Linked DNA regions of Homo sapiens: region 2 is linked to region 1. Evidence: fine-mapped expression QTL. A gene starts in region 1. The other region holds a variant in brackets. All regions are shown on one strand. Distances are from middle to middle. Region 1 holds the start of TBC1D17 (TBC1 domain family member 17). Region 2 holds the start of IL4I1 (interleukin 4 induced 1).

What was found. PIP is the estimated chance that this variant, and not a neighbour inherited with it, causes the effect.
Region 2: its variant is fine-mapped to the expression of TBC1D17 in monocytes after Pam3CSK4 (Quach 2016, PIP 0.95). The same link has a PIP of 0.9 or more in monocytes, monocytes after LPS and monocytes after R848.

What each region holds. Positions count from the first base shown.
Region 1 is chr19:49,872,477-49,882,656 of GRCh38, reverse strand. TBC1D17 (TBC1 domain family member 17) reads right to left here and starts at 4,955. Exons shown (of 17, transcript NM_024682.3): 1 at 4,913-4,955; 2 at 4,416-4,514; 3 at 4,085-4,159; 4 at 2,255-2,378; 5 at 1,182-1,389; 6 at 505-616; 7 at 257-415. The coding sequence starts at 4,933. AKT1S1 (AKT1 substrate 1) reads left to right here and starts at 5,302. Exons shown (of 5, transcript NM_001098633.4): 1 at 5,302-5,420; 2 at 9,355-9,740. The coding sequence starts at 9,362. It overlaps LOC124904743 (a long non-coding RNA gene), which reads left to right. Exons shown (of 4, transcript XR_007067293.1): 4 at 483-567. RefSeq lists a silencer at 4,469-4,758 and enhancers at 3,802-4,761, 4,979-5,318, 5,499-6,138, 5,722-6,681.
Region 2 is chr19:49,892,535-49,901,599 of GRCh38, reverse strand. IL4I1 (interleukin 4 induced 1) reads left to right here and starts at 4,713. Exons shown (of 8, transcript NM_152899.2): 1 at 4,713-4,765; 2 at 5,418-5,452; 3 at 5,547-5,785; 4 at 6,420-6,532; 5 at 7,131-7,332. The coding sequence starts at 5,440. RefSeq lists enhancers at 3,604-3,783, 6,178-6,227. The variant G/C (reference allele first, on the strand shown) is at 3,821.

The DNA.
Region 1 (10,180 bases):
CATTCAGGGGCAGGCAGCAGCCTCTTCCGGGGCTCAGCAGCCAAGTCATCCCCCAGTTAGGAGGGGTCCCCCAATAAGGGTGAGCAGGTGCTCACAGTGTCTGGCAGAGCCATGAGCGCTTTCCTCATGCACCCCCTGAGGGTGTCCCATTACCATCCCCGTTTTACCAAAGAGGAAACTGAGGCCCAGGGAAATGAAATCATGCGCCCAGGGAGACACGGCCAGAAATAACAGGGAGGGTCCACTCACTACTCACACAGGAAATGACCTCGAATCCAGGCTCGGGCTCATCGTCGGGTGGCGGGGGAAGGTCGGAGGCGGCTCCCTCAGGCTGTGGCTGCAGGGCACCCCGGAAGAAGTTGGTCACTCGGGAGAAGCTGCTGAAGGTGGTGGAGTAGGGATCCTGGAGGAAGCGCTGGGGACGAGGCCAAAGGGAGGTCACGGCCCGCCCCTTCTCGTCCCTCCCTGCCCACACCCGCCAGGCCTCCTGCTGGGGACACTCACTGACACCACATTGGAGCTGTCCTGGTCAAAGAGCTGCAGGTGGTGGAAGGAGTTGGAGAGAGCAGAGGAGTCGTGGGGGAAGACAAGGTAGAGGCGGGAGTCCTGCGGGGAGCTGGGAGGCGGGAGGTGACGCACAGGTGATGCACAGGTAGGGGCCCAGTGTCCCAGGCTGTCTGTGCTCGGCCGACATCGGTTCCAGCTGCAGCGTCCCAACCACCCCTGGGCAACCCCTCATTTCAGGGAATGCTGTTAAAGGAGGCCCACAGCTGGATCCCAGGGGTGGGCACATGACTCGGGGCTGGCCAATGAGGGCCTTTCACCTTCCGGTCCAGTGTGACTGACTCAGGGACGAGCCAATGAGAAGCAGCTCTGGGATCTTGTTGGAACGTGGGGAAAGAGGTGCCTTCTATCCAGCCGGGTTGTTAAGCCACGGATACTGGGGCCCCAGAGAATAACGAACTCAGAGGGAAAAAGGATAACTGTTTCTAACATTTTGGGACCTGGGTCCTGCCTGAAATCAATACTCCTTTTTGACTTTTTAGTTATATGTGCTGGTCAACTCTTTGCCTGCCTTTAAATCAGTGTGAGTTGTGTTTCTTTCACAGCCCCGAGGGGTCACGCTGCAGCCATGGTGGGACTGGGCCCGGTTTAAGGCCCAGCACTGGGAGAGAGCTCACCTGGCCAACAGCAGGTAGCGGCTGAGGACGCGGAGCAGGGCGCGGGTGCCCCCGCGGTGGAAGTGCAGTGCGGGCAGGGAACCTCCAGCCTGGGTCACCAGAACCAGGTAGGCCCAGCTGAGGCCTGGCTTGGAGCGGCGGATGGACTTTAGCTCCCCCAGACTCACTGAGAAGGCCCAGGAGCCCTGGGGGCAGCTGGGCTCTGCACCTAGGGAGACGGCACTGTGTTGGGGGAAGCGCGTGGGAAGCCAGAGTCAGCCTTATCAACCACAACCCAGGATGTTCCTTCGGCACAGGCATCTCCTGAGGGCCCCGCCACAAGCCACCCCTCTGCCCCTGGCCTCACATTCCTTGGAAGCACAAATGAGTAAGATGGGAAGGGGGCCCAGTGGACATGTACCTTTCCAGAACCTTCCTAGGCACCCCTCGACCTGCAGGGTAAGGGCCCTATTCCTCAACCTGGCACTCGAGGCCCCTCGGGTCTGTCCTTCGCCCCTGCCTATCTTACCTCCAACCTTTCTTCACTCAAAATCCCACACTTGAGCTACAATGAAAGGCCAGCGGCTCCCTAAACACACGGGGGCCGCCTGCCTCTGGCTTGCACGGGCTGCTCTCTCTGCCAGAAGAGAAAACTCCCAAGAGTCCCTCAGTGCCAAGCTCCAGCATCACCTCTTCCTGGAAGGAATCTCCATTCCCCAGAGGGGTCACGTGCCTTCTCTGGATGTCCCCTGCACCCTGTGTGACCCCAGGATGGTGCAAATCACCCTAACTGGCTGCATCTGTCACCCCACCAGCCTCGAACCTCAGGGGCAGGCCTGGTGTGGGAGCACCCACAGCCAATCCGGGAGCCCAGTAGGATGAGCAAGGCTGCAGTCTCAGAGACACTGGCCATGTTGACCTGGGCTGGGACAGTCCTGTCTTCCCATTCACTTCCATGCTCCTGGGACTGGAAGGTGGTGACTGGTGGCCTTCTTGATTGTGGGCAGCAAAGCCCTTGGGACCGTGACCACTGAGGGCAAGATGTGTCCTACCTGGCCCACACGTGCTTCTCAAGGGCCGCCACCTCAGCCTACCTCTCGTGGGCTCTGAGTGGCAGAGCTGTGGCCGCACAGTGCTGATGACAGCCCAGTCAGGTTCATAGCCGGGGTCAAAGGTTGGTTCCTCCTCAGAAGCACATGAGTCACCCCCACTGGAGTCCTTAGGAGAGGAAAGGAGCAGACAGTAAGGGGCCATGGATTCAGATCTTAGCCTCGAGGCTACCCTGGAAGATAGCCCCATTGAATAAAGAGGGAAACTGAGGCACAAAGAAGGTACAGCAGGCCGGGTGCGGTGGCTCACGCCTGTAATCCCAGCACTTTGGGAGGCTGAGGCGGGCGGATCACCTGAGGTCGGGAGTTCGAGACCAGCCTGACCAATATGGAGAAACCTCGTTTCTACTAAAAAAATACAAAAAAATTAGCCAGGCATGGTGGCGCATGCCTGTAATCCCAGCTACTCGGGAGGGTGAGAAAGGAAAATCGCTTGAACCTGGGAGGCGGAGGTTGCAGTGAGCTGAGATGGCGCCATTGCACTCCAGCCTGGGCAACAAGAGCAAATTCTGTCTCATTAAAAAAAAAAAAAAAAAAAGAAAAAAGAAAGTACAGCACTTGCTCAGGGTCACCCAATGCAGCCAGAGAGCGAGCCAGGACTTGACCCCATGTCTCCCACTGCATGGGGAGGTCCATGCTACACAGCAGGTGGCTCTGCAGTCAGGCTGCGGAGTGCTCAATGGACACTGTTGTACTCACCAGGTAAATACAAACCAAAACCACAATAAGATACCACTTTGCACTCTTTTGAGACAGTGAGACTGTCAAAAAAAAAAAAAAAAAACAATAACAACAACAAAAAAAACACACTACATTTCCCAGGTTTCTTTGCAGCTGGAATCCAGGACACAGGACAAATTCTACCAACCAGATGCAGGCCAACCTGGAAAGCGGAAGTGATGTAACGCAACTTCCTGGTGCCTTGGCTGTGTTTGGCTGTGGAGCAAGGTGGAGAGTCATCTTCATCTTCATCTTCATCCTCCTGCCCTGGGGCAGCGCAGGTGGTCAGCTCAGCCTTCCAGTGTCTCGTCACTAGCTCTGTGGGTGCCGACTGACTTCCGGCCCCTGGGTGGAACTCATCAGCTCCAATGGAGGTCTCATTCCCCACTAAAGAACCCCCCTACAGAGGCATCCAACTTCTCCGTGTGCCTTGAAGGTTGTTCTGCTGTCCCTGAAATACCTTCTTGTCCTTTCATATCCTGGGAGTCCCAGCTCAAATGTCTGCTCTCCCAGGAAGCGTTGGGGATCTGGAATCAGACTGTCTGGGTGCAAAAAGTTCCAACACTTCCTAGCGTTTTCGACCTCATCTATCAGTTTCTCAAAAAGTGAGTAAGGGTCAGGGCTTAGGTGGGTCTGGATCTGACTTATCTCTGGGTCTCAGAATTGCCCAGGACGGGGTCCAGCCATGGGAAGTCCCAGGAGACATAACGAAGGGAAAGCCGGGAGCAGTGACGAAGTGGGTGAGTAGGCTGTCAGGCCCTGTCCTCTGGCACCAGAGGAAATGCCATTTCCCTTCAAGCAACTCGAATCCACATCTTGCACCCTGGCAGGGATCTCCCAAGAAGCAAAGGGAGAGAGGGGTCAGCCGTCCCCACGACCGTGCGTCTTATGCTCCCTGCTCTTTTTCCTTGAATGGGCATCCTCTGCCCATTTCACAGAGAGGAGCAAAAGGAGAGGCAGAGTACCCAAGCCTAAACAGGGTCACACATGCCCCACGAGTAGGTCTGGGATTGTACGCAGGTCCCTCAAATGACTTACAACAGCACGGACCTAGAAAAAAAGCGAGTGGAGAAGGGCAAAGCGGGTGGAGCCTACCTTCTTGGAGAAGAGGATTTGGGTGGAATCTCCAGCCTCCTCTACAGGAGCCCAGTGCAGGAGGACGTCATTGTCCTAGGGTAAGGAGGGAGGCGGGGTTAGAGGCGCTCCCCAAACCACATTCCCAAAACTTTCCGTTGCAAATTTCCAAACTTTCCCAGTTTCTACCCTCAGCCTTTCAAAGTCCCGCCCCTCATTCCAGTTCCCACACCCAGCCTTCTTCAGGTCCCACTGCTGACCGCCAGACCAAACTCCTACAGCTGCCGCCTGCATCCCAGACCGCCTGCATCCCGCTCGGAGCGGGTCCGAGCCCTGCTCCCTCCCAGCGCACCTTTTCCACGACACGGATGACACCAGCGATGAGAGAGTCTCGGTCCTGATACTTCTTAGCGCTGGTGTGCAGGTACACTCCGCCCTTCTCAAACACCACCTGAGTTGGGGGGAACCAGCGAGGGCTGGGGCCCAAGCGAGGGGACCAGCCTGGGGAGCCAATAGGGACGGGCCCAGGGAGGAGCCACCCTCAGGGGGCGGGGCCGGGAGGGCCATTGCCCCGGGACCAAGGCGGGGAGAATGGTCCAGCCCGCGTTCGGATGCTGACGTGCGTTCCACAGGGGGCAGGGCTCAAGGAGTCGCCTGAGCCGGGGGGGCGGGGCCATGGGAGGTTCTTCCCTGGGGCGGTGGACGGGAGGGTGACGGCGCGTTTATAAGAGATCGGTGTTTGCCAAGGCCGTGCCGGATTCTCGAGAGCCAAGGCCTGAGAGAAGAGCTGATCACTAGACGGGGCGTTTCGCATACACTGAAGCGAGGGAATGCGTCCTCAGTGCTTACCCTGTAGCCGGCTCCTTCCATAGTCGCCGCCGAAGGCCCCACTGCCCCGCCTCCTCCTTTTCCTAGTCAGCGTGTTGTCACTTCCGGAGAAAACAGTTCCCCTCCGGGCCGGACAGTGGTAGCGGCCCGACCCGTTCTAGAGAAGGAGCGGGTGAAACCATTTTTCAGAAGGGGGTTATTCCACTGGAACCTCGAGGGTGGATCGGAGTCACGTGGCGCAGACGCTGAAGGTGGATCCGGCTACGGAGAGTGCGCAGGCGCAGTGTTCGCCCTCTCGCCACGAAGTAAACAAGTGGGAGGGTCTGAGAGCTGCACCACCTGGGGCAAGCACGCCTTGAAACGCCCACTTCCTTCTCCATATTGTATACTGGAATTGAAGCCAAGGAGGTACCATTTTGCTCGAGGGCATGGCCTAAGCCGGTCAGCTAAGGCCATGTTAATACGGGGCTGTCCCATCTCTCTGCGGGGCGCGACAGCTGGAAGAGCCGAACGGATAAGAGAAGAGGAGGTGAGAGGAGCTGTACACCACAAGAGGCACTGAGGGACTCAGGATAACGGGATGAAGCCGTCAGTGCCCCCAGAAACGAAGCGGCCCCGGACGAATTTCTGAGTCACCGTCGCGAGAAAGCGGGCTGAGCCGCCATTTTGAAGCCTGGCAAACCGAAGCAAGAAATGCTGCCGTGTTGGATCTTTGCCAGCCTTCGTGCCGAATGGGAGCAGGTTGGAGGGAGGGAGAGCCAATATACACTATGGGCTGATTAAGCCCGGTTGGCTGCCATGTTGTTAACGAGCACCGATTTCCTCTACTTTTGTCGAAGAAGTTTATTGTGGGTCAGGGACGTCAGGTCGCTTGCCTTCGTTTACTGTGGTCATGATTGAGCATATGAGGACGGCCATTATTGTTGGGGGCAAATGGAAATGCTCTAGGCGGGGCCATTTTTCTTAGGGGCAAGCTGTCGTCACCCTTGTCAACTGGTTCGGATGAAGCCCCTGTGGCCGCCATCTTGATCTCGGGCGGCCCCGATAAGGGAGGCGGAGTGTGCGGAGAGGAGGCGGGGCAACTGCGCGGACGTGACGCAAGGCGCCGCCATGTCTTTTGAGGGCGGTGACGGCGCCGGGCCGGCCATGCTGGCTACGGGCACGTGAGTGGAGGCGGCGTTGTTAACCGCGGTGTGGGGAGGATTTGGCCGTCCTGAGGCAGCGGGGCGCTGGGAGGGCGAGCGGCTCACGGGAGGGGTATGGCCTGCACAGATCAGAGGGCAGAGGTCTGCCAGCGATCCTTTGCTGAGCGCTGGAAGGGGGTCGCCCGTGGGAATCGTCCTGTCAGACCTGAGGCAAATCGTAGACAGTCTCACCTTGCGGTTCCAGAGCGCCTGGGATCTCTACCTGGGCCGTGGACCACGTCCACGGGGTCGGGGGATGGTTTGGGGGGCCTCGGGGCGCCCCTCACCCGTCCAAAGGCGGGACTTCCGGTCCTGGCCTCCGTCTGGGCGGGATTTCCTGTTTTCTTCCTAGACCAGTGGGTCCTCCCTGGACCCCGGGCGAGGTTGGGAGGTCTCGGGGCAGCTGAGCGTGGCCCCAGGCGCTCACCCCATGGCTACCGCGTTCATGCTCAGGTTCCTCACATCTTGGGGTGTGGGGTACTAAAATTTCGACAGGAGGGGTGGTTCCACCCCTCTCCTCCTTAGCTCTTTTCCCTCCTCCCTGCATCCAAAGAGGACAGCCACATCGTGCTCCCCCTCCTGTGGGGAACACGTCTCACTTTCCTCTAATCTCTCCCTGATCTTACACGAAACTCGTCTATCGGGGCGGGTTCTTCCTCCATCTCTCAGCTCCTTGGAGGAAACAGGACCTCCTCTAGAAGCTGAAGGGTAAGGAGGACCCCCAGGTCTTGGCTACTCTCCTGTTGGGTAGCATTACAGGGTGCCCCTGGACCTTGGCAAAGAGGTCTGTGGAAGTCGCCCTGTCCTTTTTGCTCATGTCTCCTGAGTTGGGGGAGCCCTCACAACTCACTCACCCTATTTCACTCTTTAATCCCGTGGCTACTCCAAGATTGAGTACACGGAGAGTTCATCCTGACGTTCTCTTCCGGGACCTCCTCTCCCCCTCTTCTCCGCATGTCATTAGGGGCTGGAGGCCCGTGGAAGTGAGAGCCCCAGGCCTAGCACGGCGAGGCAGTTGACTTTGGACCAGCCATTTCTTGCTTAGAGCCTCAGTTTCCTCCCTCATCAGCTGGGAAGGACATGGGTGTGTTTGAGACACCGGGTACCCCCCAGTTCAGTGGGGTTTTGGGGCTGGGCAGTCAGCAGTTTCAGCCCCACTTGTGCCCTGTGTAGCTGTGTGCTTTTTTGCCAGTGTCCTAAGCTCTCTGAGCCTCACAGTTTCAGCCCCACTTGTGCCCTGTGTAGCTGTGTGCTTTTTTGCCAGTGTCCTAAGCTCTCTGAGCCTCACTTTTCCATCTGGATTAGAATATCTGCCCTCCTAAAGGCAGGCAGGATGGCGGTCAGGATTTAGAACAGGCCCCGGATCTAGACTTTCTGAGTCCAGGTCCCAGCCCTGCCTCTTCCAGTTGTGGCCCTTCAAGATGCTGACTGCCCCTGGGCCTGAGTTTGCAACTGTAAAATGGGGTGAACTGTAACTAAAGCTCCTGTCTCATAGTGTAGGTGAAAGGGTGGGATGAGAAGGTTGATCCCATCTTGGGTCCTTGCGTGGCTTCTGGGAGGTGGTGGATAAACCTCTTCCTTCCCTTGGGGCTTTGAACTCCCTGAGTGAGTCAGATAGGTGAGATGCCAGGTGTGGAATCCCAGCACTGAATAGGTGCTCAGCAAACACCAACATCAATGATCGTGAGTCATAAAAGGCCTGCAAATTTCATTCAGACTCCAGACTCCCTGCTCCCTTCACCCTGGTGGGCTGGACCACAGCTGTGCCTGAATCCGTGCAGTGGCGGTGTGCTTACTGCCTCCCGGAAGAGCGTCTTCCGCAGCCCAGCAGCTCTGGCTCAACCACGCTGGTTAATGGGGAAGAAAATGAGGCACAGAGAGGGCCAGTGAGCCATCTAAGGTCACACAGCAGGTTTGAGACAGAGTCAGGGCAAGGACCCAGCCCCCCTGCCCTCGCTCTTCTCACCCAGTAAGGAGACGCACCCTGCATTGTCTGCTTAGGGCCGACCTGTCCTGCAAACACAAATCCCTGACCTTGGGGGAATTCACAGTCTGATGCAGGAGGCAGCCAGGTTACAGCTGTCACAAGCTCAGGTGACATGAATGCTCATGGAGGAAGCCCAGGGCATCGGATGGGCTCCTGAAGTCATCTGATGCACCCTGGGGGATCAGGGACAACAGAGGACCTGCCAGAACAGTCTTGTAGGAAAAGCCGTGTGGATTTCCCAGCACAGAGAGCAGCGCCAGCACCATTTCAGCCCCGACTCTCTGAGGCCTCAGTCATAGAACCAGCCAGTTCCCTCTGGAAGGAAGTGTGCTGGGAAGGTGGCCACTCAGACAGTGTGGGACCCCCTATGGAGCAGACTGGCTGGATCTATGGGCGAGGGAAAGTTTCTTCCACCCTAGGATGAGTGAAAGGTTGGTGGGGAATGGAGCACAAGTCATCAAGGTCAGGGACCACGTTTTCTGAAGGCCTCGGGCCTCAGAGGCTCTGGAAGGCCGTGGAGGCAGGATGGCCCAGGAGCTGGGGATGGCCAGAACACCTAGAGCCTCCAGGGCCTGCCCTGAGGACTATGGCGAGGAGTAGCATCAGCTCCGGGTGCTGAAGGAACCCCCTGGGCCTTGTGCAGGACACTCTTGACGGGATGGCTGGGCGACGGAGCAGGGTGGCATCATCCATCAAATTCAACACAAGCCCCACGTGGAATTCTAAATTTTCTAGACACCATGTTAAAAGAGTAAAAAAAGCAGATGAAATTCCTTTTTTTTTTTTTTTTTGCCCAGGCTGGCTTCGAACTCTTGGGCTCGGTGATCCGCCTGCCTCGGCCTCCCAAAGTGCTGGGGTTGCAGGCCTGAGCCACCACGCCCGGCTCGTTCGGCTTTATTGTACTCAGTCTTCAGAACCCAGTGCAGGTTTTATTGTTAGAGGCCTCTCTGCTAGGACTCTCTGCTAGGACTCCCTGCCTTTCCAGTACTCCCTGTTCACATGTGGCTGGCGGCTCCCACAGAGGCCAGGGCAGGGCCAAAGGGGAAGGAGTACAGTGACTTGGGGCAGGAGGAATGGGTTGGGGCAGAGGACGTCGCCAGGGTCTGGGCCTGCGAGGACTGGATGGTGAGAATCCTGGGGAGTAGCAGGTTTGGGGAGGACACACAGCACCGCTGGGACAAGGTGGGTGGAGGGTGGTGAGTGCCATCCAGGGGACGGGCGGGCACTCTGAGTGGGTGGCGATGATGTAGGCCGCCAAGCCTCAGCCCCCTCTGTCCTGCTCTGGCCCGCAGGGCGCGGATGGCGTCGGGGCGCCCCGAGGAGCTGTGGGAGGCCGTGGTGGGGGCCGCTGAGCGCTTCCGGGCCCGGACTGGCACGGAGCTGGTGCTGCTGACCGCGGCCCCGCCGCCACCACCCCGCCCGGGCCCCTGTGCCTATGCTGCCCATGGTCGAGGAGCCCTGGCGGAGGCAGCGCGCCGTTGCCTCCACGACATCGCACTGGCCCACAGGGCTGCCACTGCTGCTCGGCCTCCTGCGCCCCCACCAGCACCACAGCCACCCAGTCCCACACCCAGCCCACCCCGGCCTACCCTGGCCAGAGAGGACAACGAGGAGGACGAGGATGAGCCCACAGAGACAGAGACCTCCGGGGAGCAGCTGGGCATTAGTGATAATGGAGGTGAGAGGGTGGGGGCAGGGGCGGGTGCGGCCCAGCGCTTGAGGTGCCCGCAGGAGGCTTTGTCGGGGTGGGGGCCTGCTTAGCCCAGAGTACTTCTACAGAAGTGCAGTCTCAGGACCCCAGAGCCAGACAGGCTTGCCTGGGGCTTGCTGTGTGATCTAAAGCCAGTCCCTTCCCTGCTCTGAGCCTTACTGGTCCTGGGGCCAGCTCTGTGCTGGGAGTGGTGGGCACAAGGACACAGAGCAGGCTCGGGCTTTTTTCTCAAGGGGCTCCCGGTCTAGCCAAGGAACTGGAGTCCCGGTGGGGGTTGGGAGGCTCTGGGGCAGGTCATGGGTAGAACCAGAGTCGTTTCCACAACGCCTGGGAGGCCAAGCAGGAGTTAAAGAGTTGTCTGGGATGCAGCCAACATCTGAGGAAGCCAGGGAGGGAGCAGCCAGCTG
Region 2 (9,065 bases), 20 kb before region 1:
CAGGAAGGAGGGTTCCATGGGAAGGGGGACCCTGTCCTGGGGTCAGGCCAAAGATTGGGGGACTCACTAATTCTGTCCTCCGATCCCTGAGTCCCTTCCCCAATCTGGGCCTGGACCCCCTGACTCCCACCCAGGTCCCAGGTCATCCCCTGGGCAGGCCCTGCCCACCCAAGCCTTGGTGAAAGTTTTGTGTTTGTTTTGTTTTGTTTTGTTTTTGAGACAGAGTCTCGCTCTGTAGCCCAGGCTGGAGTGGAATGGCGCGGTCTCGGCTCACCGCAACCTCTGCCTCCCAGGCTCGAGCGATTCTCCCGCCTCAGGATCCTGAGTAGCTGGGATTACAGATGCCCGCCACCACGCCCGGCTAATTTTTTTGTATTTTTAGTAGAGACAGGGTTTCACCATGTTGGCCAGGCTGGTCTCGAACTCCTGATCTCGTGATCTGCCCGCCCACCTCGGCCTCCCAAAGTGCTGTGATGACAGGAGTGAGCCACCGCGTCTGGCCAATGAAACTTTTAATACTGACCACTTAGGGTCTTTGGACAGACTCAGAGAAGAGAATGCGTATATACGTAAGGCAGGGGCCCGGTCCCCAGCACATCTGTGCAGCCCTCATCAGCATCAGCTGCCCTGATGGGCCACGAGGCCCCCAGTGGGGCCAGGGCCAGGTGTCTGGCTGCTGTATAGACATGACCTAAACCTCATCGAAACCATCATTGTGGTTCTAGAAGTCAACCAAATAAGGTAGGATTTGCCCCACCAAAGACCATTATCTGGGAGGATTAACCTTATTTTCCAGAAACTCCATCAAAAAACCAGAATACCCCCAAACCAGCTGAAGTCAACAGATACTTGACTGGGCCTTTCCTCCCCTCCGCTCCCTCCACCTGCCCCTCCCCTCCCTCCTGTCTCCCACTCACCTATCCAAACTGCTTTTCCCTAATTCCACCCTCATCCCTAAACCTAATTTAACCTGAACACCAATCTCCTTAGTATTATCAGAAATGATTCTGGAGGCTGGGCATGGTGGCTCACACTTGTAATCCCAGCACTTTGGGAGGCCCAGGTGGGTGGATCACCTGAGGTCAGGACTTCAAGACCAGCCTGTCCAACATGGAGAAACCCCGTCTCTACTAAAAATATAAAAATTAGCTGAGCGTGGTGGTGCGCGCACCTGTAATCCCAGCTACTGGGGAGGCTGAGGCAGGAGAATCACTTGAACCCAGGAGGCAGAGGCCACAGTGAACTGAGATCACACCACTGTACTCCAGCCTGGGCGACAGAGCATTCTGGAAAGGCATCAATCCTGAACCAGCTGACTTGCGCCCTCTGCTCTTCACTGGGGGCACCTGGCCTGTCTGATGTATTGCTTCAAACTAACATTAATTGGGATTTTTTTTTCTTTAATTACAAAAGTAATACATGCTGAATGAAGATGATGTGAAATGCACAAAAAAGCTCAAAGGGGCCGGGCATAGTGGCTCATGCTTGTAATCCCAGCACTCTGGGAGGCCAAGGCAGGTAGATCACCTGAGCCCAGGAGTTTGAGACCAGGCTGGGCAACATAGCAAGGCCCCGTCGCTATGAAAAAGTACAAAAATTTAGCTGTGCATGGTGGTGTGCACCTGTGGTCCCAGCTACTCGAGAGACTGAGGCTGGAGGATCGCTTAAGCCCAGGAGTTCAAGACCAGCCTGGGCAGCATAACAAAATCCCATCTCTACAAACAGCACAGAAATTAGCCAGGTGTGGCCGGGCGAGGTGGCTCACGCCTGTAATCCCAGGACTTTGGGAGGCCGAGGCGGGCAGATCACAAAGTCAGGAGATTGAGACCATCCTGGCTAACACGGTGAAATCTCATCTCTACTAAAAATACAAAAATTAGCCGGACGTGGTGGCAGGTGCCTGTAGTCCCAGCTACTCTGGAGGCTGAGGCAGGAGAATGGCGTGAACCCAGGAGGTGGAGCTTGCAGTGAGCCAAGATAGCGCCACTACACTCCAGCCTGGGTGACAGAGTGAGACTCCGTCTCAATTAAAAAAAACAAAAAAAACAAAAAACAGGTGTGGTAGTGCACTCCTGTAGTCCCAGCTACTAGGGAGGCTGAGGTGGGAGGATTGCTTGAGCCCGGGAGGTTGAGGCTGCAGTGAGCCGAGATTGTGCCACTGTGCTCTAGCCTGAGTGACACAGCAAGACCCCATCTCTCAAAACAACAACAACAACCACCCAGAAGTCCCCCAAGGTGAGCTGCACATATGCCTGGGGCCAGAGGAGTTTTGTGCAACAACCCTCTGTGATAAGGACAAGGGGATTGGTGCAGGGCCCCACCCACTCTGGGGACCCAAAAACTCCTGGGACATGCCCTGGGAGCCAGTTGGCTGTGGGCCTCCACACCTTTCCATGGTTGTTTCCACTGTTATGCGGCTGTAGGACTGAACAAGCTATTGGGCAGGGGCCGGGGACCTGGGGCCCACCCGACCTGGTGAGGAATGCCAGCACTGCCATTCCCCACTGTGGGACCCAGGTCGAGGCACAGGCGAATAAGGCCCCAATCCCGCCGCGTTCATACTTGACATGTCGCTGTGAATGAAACTCTGAGACCTAGGCCAAGCCTTTTCCCCTCTCTGTGCCCCAGGGTCCTCCTGTCCCACCCTCTCGCCATCTCCAAGCCTCAGTTTCCTCAACTATCAAATGCAGGCATTGTTGTTGGTTTTTTGTTTGTTTGTTTGTTTGTTTTTGAGACGGAGTCTCACTCTGTCCCCCAGGCTGGAGTGCAGCGGTGCAATCTCGGCTCACTGCAACCTCTGCCTCCCGGGTTCAAGCGATTCTCCTGCCTCAGTGTCCCGAGTAGTTGGGATTACAGGTGTGCACCACCACGCCTGGCTAATTTTTTATATTTTTGGTAGAGACAGGGTTTCATCATTTTGGCCAGGTTGGTCTTGAACTCCTGACCTCAAGTGATCCGCCCACCTCAGCCTCCCAAAGTGCTGGGATTACAGGCGTAAGCCACTGTGCCTGGCCTCAAATGCAGGCATTGTGAGGCTTACGATGGGTGCAAAGCCCTGAGCACCAGGCGGCCTCCAAGGCAGGTGATCGCCATGGGAACATTTTTGTCACTATTTTTTTCTTTTTTAGAGAAAGGGTTTCGCCATCTTGGCCAGGCTGGTCTCGAGCCCCTGGGCTCAAGCAATCCTCCCACCTCGGCCTCCCAAAGTGCTAGGATTACAGCAGTGAGCCTCCGCACCCGGCCCTCATTACTATTTTTTATTTTTATTTTTTATTTTTTGAGATGGAGTCTGGCTCTGTCACCCAGGCTAGAGTGCAGTGGCACGATCTCAGCTCACTGCAACCTCCACCTCTTGGGTTCAAGCAATTCTCCTGTCCCAGCCTCCTGAGTAGTTGGGACTACAGGCGTATGCCACCATGCCCGGCTAATTTTTATATTTTTAGTAGAGACGAGGTTTTGCCATGTTGGCCAGGCTGGTCTTGAACTCCTGACATCAGGTGATCCGCCTGCCTCGACCTCCCAAAGTGCTGGGATTATAGGCGTGAGCCACCCCTGGCCCTCGTCACTATTTTTGCTGACCCAAGCTCTTTCGGTCCCTGAACTCTCCAGCTCTTTGATCATTTCCCTTTGCCACGGCCTCCCGCCCCTGCGTCACATGCCTTGTTACTCACATTCACCCCCCAGCCCCTCCCGGCCATAACCGCATCCCTCTTTGATTTACTGCGGGAGTTTCCCATCTTCCTTCTTGTTAATGCCCTCCAACCCCCACCCAACCCTTGCTGCAGAGAATCTGCCTCCCTCTGGTTTTCCTCCTCACGGA[G/C]CCCCTGGCTCCCTCTCCCCCACCCCAAGGAAAGTCCCTGCTATTGTTTCTCCACCCCCACCCACTCCAAGGTGCCGCCCCACTCCCTGCCCTGAGCACTGAGGTGGTTCTTAAAGCAGGGATGGGTGAAGCCTGGGCGCTTCCCTCTGCCGGGTGGTCACTCATAGAACCCCTGAGTGCCCCTGCGGCCACAGCAGCTGGCATTTCCAAAGGAGCAGCTTCCAGTACTACCCCAGGTTCCGGCCACAGAACTTAACCTGGATTCACTCACTTGATCCTAAAACACTGTGACGTCTGTAGACGTCATTTGACAGCTGTAGACGAGAGCCACAGAGGGGAGGGCGGGCTCAGAGCCCACGTCCTGACCCCGGGACCACGGCTGCCAGCCCCACTGCTACACCCATGTAACGGAGGGGGAGACTGAGGCTCTGGGTGGCAAGTGGAGAGGGAAGTGGAACCATGGGGGGCCCTGCAGGACATGGCGACACCTGACGGAGAGGGACTTGGAGGGGAAAGTTGGCCTGGCCCAGGGACCTGTAGCCCCTCTGTCCCCGTGGGAATCAAGGAGGCAGAGAGAGTGCAGGGGAGGATAGAAACAAGTGGCCTGGTGATCAGGGACGGGGGCAAACCGAAGGGGATTCCCCGTTGTTGGCACGGTTACCTGAGCATCTATTTCTGGCCTCCAAACCACCCCAGAACTATCTGGGGCAAAAGGAAGTGAATAGACTGATTAACTTCCTCCAACCCCCTTTCTCCAACCTCAACTAGACTCTGAGCATTGGACCAGAGCAGCTCCAGGAAACCAGTTTCATTTCCCTCGGCCAGTTTCCCAAAAGGAGGGGTGGGCGGGGCTCTGCCAGTTTAAGGGGAGAGAAAGGGCCACAGCAGAGACAGTGGAGGGCAGTGGAGAGGACCGCGCTGTCCTGCTGTCACCAAGAGCTGGAGGTAGTGACACGGCCAGTGGTGGGGGGACAGAGAGACAGGACCCACAGAAATAGGGACTGAGAAGCAGTCAGGAGCTGGGGAGATGAGGAAGAGGGAAAAGAGGCCGGGCGCGGGGGCTCATGCCTGGAATCCCAGCACTTTGGGAGGCCGAGGTGGGTGGATCACCTAAGGTCAGGAGTTCGAGACCAGCCTGGCCAACATGGCGAAACCCCGTCTCTACTAAAAATACAAAAATTAGCCAGGTTTGGTTATGGGTGTCTGTAATCCCAGTTACTTGGGAGGCTGAAGTGGGAGGATTCTTGAACCTGGGAGGCGGAGGTTGCAGTGAGCCAAGATCTTACCACTGCACTCCAGCCTGGATGGCAGAGAAAGACTGTTAAAAAAAAAAGAAAGAAAGGAAAGAAAGAGGGAAAAGAAGAGAAAGAGACAGGAACCCGAGAGAGCTGTGGCAGAGGTGGAGACCGGTGAGGAGGGAGGCAGGGACGGTCCAGGGGACTCTGAAGGAATGGGGTTAGGGGACACAGGTCCAGAGAGCAGGACAGTGACTGGGGGAGGGCCGGCTCTAGCAGCTGGGCAGCCCATGGGAGACAGAGTCAGGCTACAGTGGTCACAGGCCTCAGTCACAACAGCCCTCCCTTCTCCTCCACCCCAGACACCATCTCCCACCGAGAGTCATGGCCCCATTGGGTGAGTAAGCAGGGGAGGGGCTCTGGAACAAGTGAGTAGAACCCCTCTCCCCCGACCTGCCACAACCCCGTTGACCCTGTCCTCCTCCTCCCAGCCCTGCACCTCCTCGTCCTCGTCCCCATCCTCCTCAGCCTGGTGGCCTCCCAGGACTGGAAGGCTGAACGCAGCCAAGACCCCTTCGAGAAATGCATGCAGGATCCTGACTATGAGCAGCTGCTCAAGGTGGTGACCTGGGGGCTCAATCGGACCCTGAAGCCCCAGAGGGTGATTGTGGTTGGCGCTGGTGTGGCCGGGCTGGTGGCCGCCAAGGTGCTCAGCGATGCTGGACACAAGGTGGGAAGCACTGCTTGCAGTCTACCTGGAGTCCCTCCTGCTGCAGGCTGGAGTCCCTGGGCACAGGGACACGGCCGCGTTCCTCCTTGAGGGGGTGGAGGTGGGGATGTGGGGGGAGAGGCTATCTTTCCCTGTAGTCTGGGGGTGAGGCCCAAGCCCCCTGCTGTCACATGTCTCCACTGAGAGGCCCCAGACTTTCCTGTCCCACGTTTTTCATCCCAGAGGGAAGTCTCACTGGCTCAAAGCTCCTCTGTCCTGGGGTGGGGCGCCTGTTGGTGGAGAGGGAAACTCTACCAAGGGGATGTGTGCCCTGAGGTCTAACCACTGACCTACTCACTGCAATCCGAGAATGAGAATGGGCCAGCCCAGGGGCTTCTACGCATATGGGTCATCTCCGAACTCCCCGAGCTGGGAAGTCCCTTTGCAGTCTAGCTGGCAGCCTTCCTCCTGCAGTCTGGAACTGCTCACTCAGTTCTGTTCCCCCACCTCCATACAGAAGGGGACCCTCTCCTAGTCTGGGTCTGGGCCACTGTGGGGATGGAAGAAGGCAGGGGGCTGGCACGGGGTGGTAGAGGGCAGGGGATGGTCAGTGGGTGGAGCTGAAGGGCCCTCCTCGCCCCACGGACTCCCTCAGGTCACCATCCTGGAGGCAGATAACAGGATCGGGGGCCGCATCTTCACCTACCGGGACCAGAACACGGGCTGGATTGGGGAGCTGGGAGCCATGCGCATGCCCAGCTCTCACAGGTGACCTAGCAACCCACCCACCTGTGTGCCTAGACTCAACTAGCCCCCCAGCTCCATGCCCACACCAGAGTGGGCCCGAACTTCCACTCTGACTCCCAAACCCAGCCTCCAACCCCATCCTTCGCCTAATCCTCACCTCAGTCTTGCCTCCAGCGCCAGCCCTGGGCCTCTGGCAACACTCGGGCCACCTGGTCCAACCAGACCTCCAGCTGGCCCTGCCTGGTGCAAAAGCCAGCTCCTGTGCTGGCCCCTCCAGGCCTGCAGCTCCACCATCCCCACACCCTCAGGCACCCCAGCCCCAGGCCCCTTCTTCATCTCAAACCCCCGTCCAACCCAAACTCTGTCCCCCTTCCCAATTCTAATCTGGGCTCTATCCCACTCTTAACCCAATCCTAATCCTGGTACTGCCCTGAGGCCTCCAGCCTTGTCCCCATTTCATTCCCATCCCCCAGCATTGATTACCCCAAATCTAGCCCCACCCCCAGCCTCATGCTGGTCCCCAGCTACTCTCCCCTCCCACCCCTCTTCTCCAAGTCCCACTAGGGACCAGGCCACCCCCACTGGAGCCCGGCCCTCACTCACCCACTCCCCTGATCAGGATCCTCCACAAGCTCTGCCAGGGCCTGGGGCTCAACCTGACCAAGTTCACCCAGTACGACAAGAACACGTGGACGGAGGTGCACGAAGTGAAGCTGCGCAACTATGTGGTGGAGAAGGTGCCCGAGAAGCTGGGCTACGCCTTGCGTCCCCAGGAAAAGGGCCACTCGCCCGAAGACATCTACCAGATGGCTCTCAACCAGGTGGGTACCGCCTGCACCCTCCTCCCGCCCTGACTTCTCTGTCCTCCTCCTAAGCTCGCCCCGGCCCGGCTTTTCTTCTCTCTGGCATCCCTTCAGTCCCCTCCATGGGGTGGGGCGCCTGTTGGTGGAGATGGAAATTCTACCAAGGGGATGTGTGCCATGAGGTCTAACCACTGACCTACTCACTGAAATCCGAGAATGAGAATGGGCCAGCCCAGGGGCTTCTACACATATGGGTCATCTCTCAACTCCCTTCTTTTTTTTTTTTTTTTTTTTTTTTTTGAGATGGAGTCTTACTCTGTCACCCAGGCTGGAGTGCAATGGCGCCATTTCAGCTCACTGCAACCTCCGCCTCCCAGGTTCAAGCAATTCTCTGCCTCAGCCTCCCGAGTAGCTGGGATTACAGGCGCCCGCCACCACGCCCAGCTAATTTTTGTATTTTTAATAGAGACGGGGTTTCACCATCTTGGCCAGGCTGATCTTGAACTCCTGACCTCGTGATCCACCTGCCTCAGCCTCCCAAAGTGCTGGGATTACAGGCGTGAGCCACTGCCCCCGGCCCCAACTCCCTTCTTTAGCTTCCCCGTAAACACTGCTGACCCCAAAGCTGCATCAGCTTTTGGCCTCTTCCCCTTTCACCCACACACTGTCCTGGATAACCTCCCCAGTCTCCACCTCTGGCTTAAACATAGATCCATGGGCTGATGGAGACATCTGCCTCCCGAGACCCTGATCTGTGTCCCTCCCCAGGACACTGGGCTCAGAAGCTTCCCCTAAACCTGTTCCTCCTCCCGGTGCCCCCATCTCACGATGGCCCCACCATCCCGCAGTCACGGGCAGACCCCTAGGAGCCATCCTCCTCCTGACCTCCTCCTCGCCCACCTCCCCCACCATCAGTGCCCACCCCTGCCGCCTGACGCTTGTGCCCTGCTCCCCTCTGCCTGCCCCAGCTCAGGCCTCCTCCTCTGCCCTGGACCCTCCCCCAGCCTCCTCTCAAGCTGCCCAGGCTCTAGTCTCCCCAGCCTGGTACCAGAAACGTCTTCCCACACACCCAGAGTGATGCTGCTCACAGCCCCCAGTGGCTCCCCGCTGCCTCCAGGACAAAGTCTGATCTTTTCAGGCTCAGCTTTGAGCCCTGACTGGCCTTCCCTTCTGCACCCCTCCAGCCTCATGCTCTTTTCTCCTCTAAGAAATTTTTGTCCTCATGGTGGTCCACATGCCCCCAGCTCTGTGTTCCTCACACCCACTATACCTGTGTATCACCCTCCCTTTCCAGAATGCCTTTCCCTTCCCCACACAGGAACTCCTGCTCAGCCCTCAAGAACTAGCTCCAATGTCCCCTCCTCCAGGAAGCCTTCCCTGATACCTTTAGGGAGGAACTGGCCACACCCAACATCCCCTCCCCACCCAGGTCAGAGCCCACTTGCCCATCTCCCCTTCTAGACCAGGATGGGGGCCATGTCCAGGTCATTTCTATGCCTTGACACTGACTGGTTTGGGAGTCTGAGAGATGCGAGATGCATGAGTGAGTGAAGGGGCACTGCCTTCCCTCTGAGGTCCTGGCCAGAAGGGGGAAGCCAGGTGGACCAAGAAGAAGGCTGAAATTAGATGGGGGCAGCAAGGCTTCTGGGAGGGGGTGAGATTCGAACAAAGTGCTGAAGAACACGCACTCATGTGCCACGCAAAGACAGGCAGGGAAACAATAGGTGCCAGATGTGTAGGTGGGAGAGCCC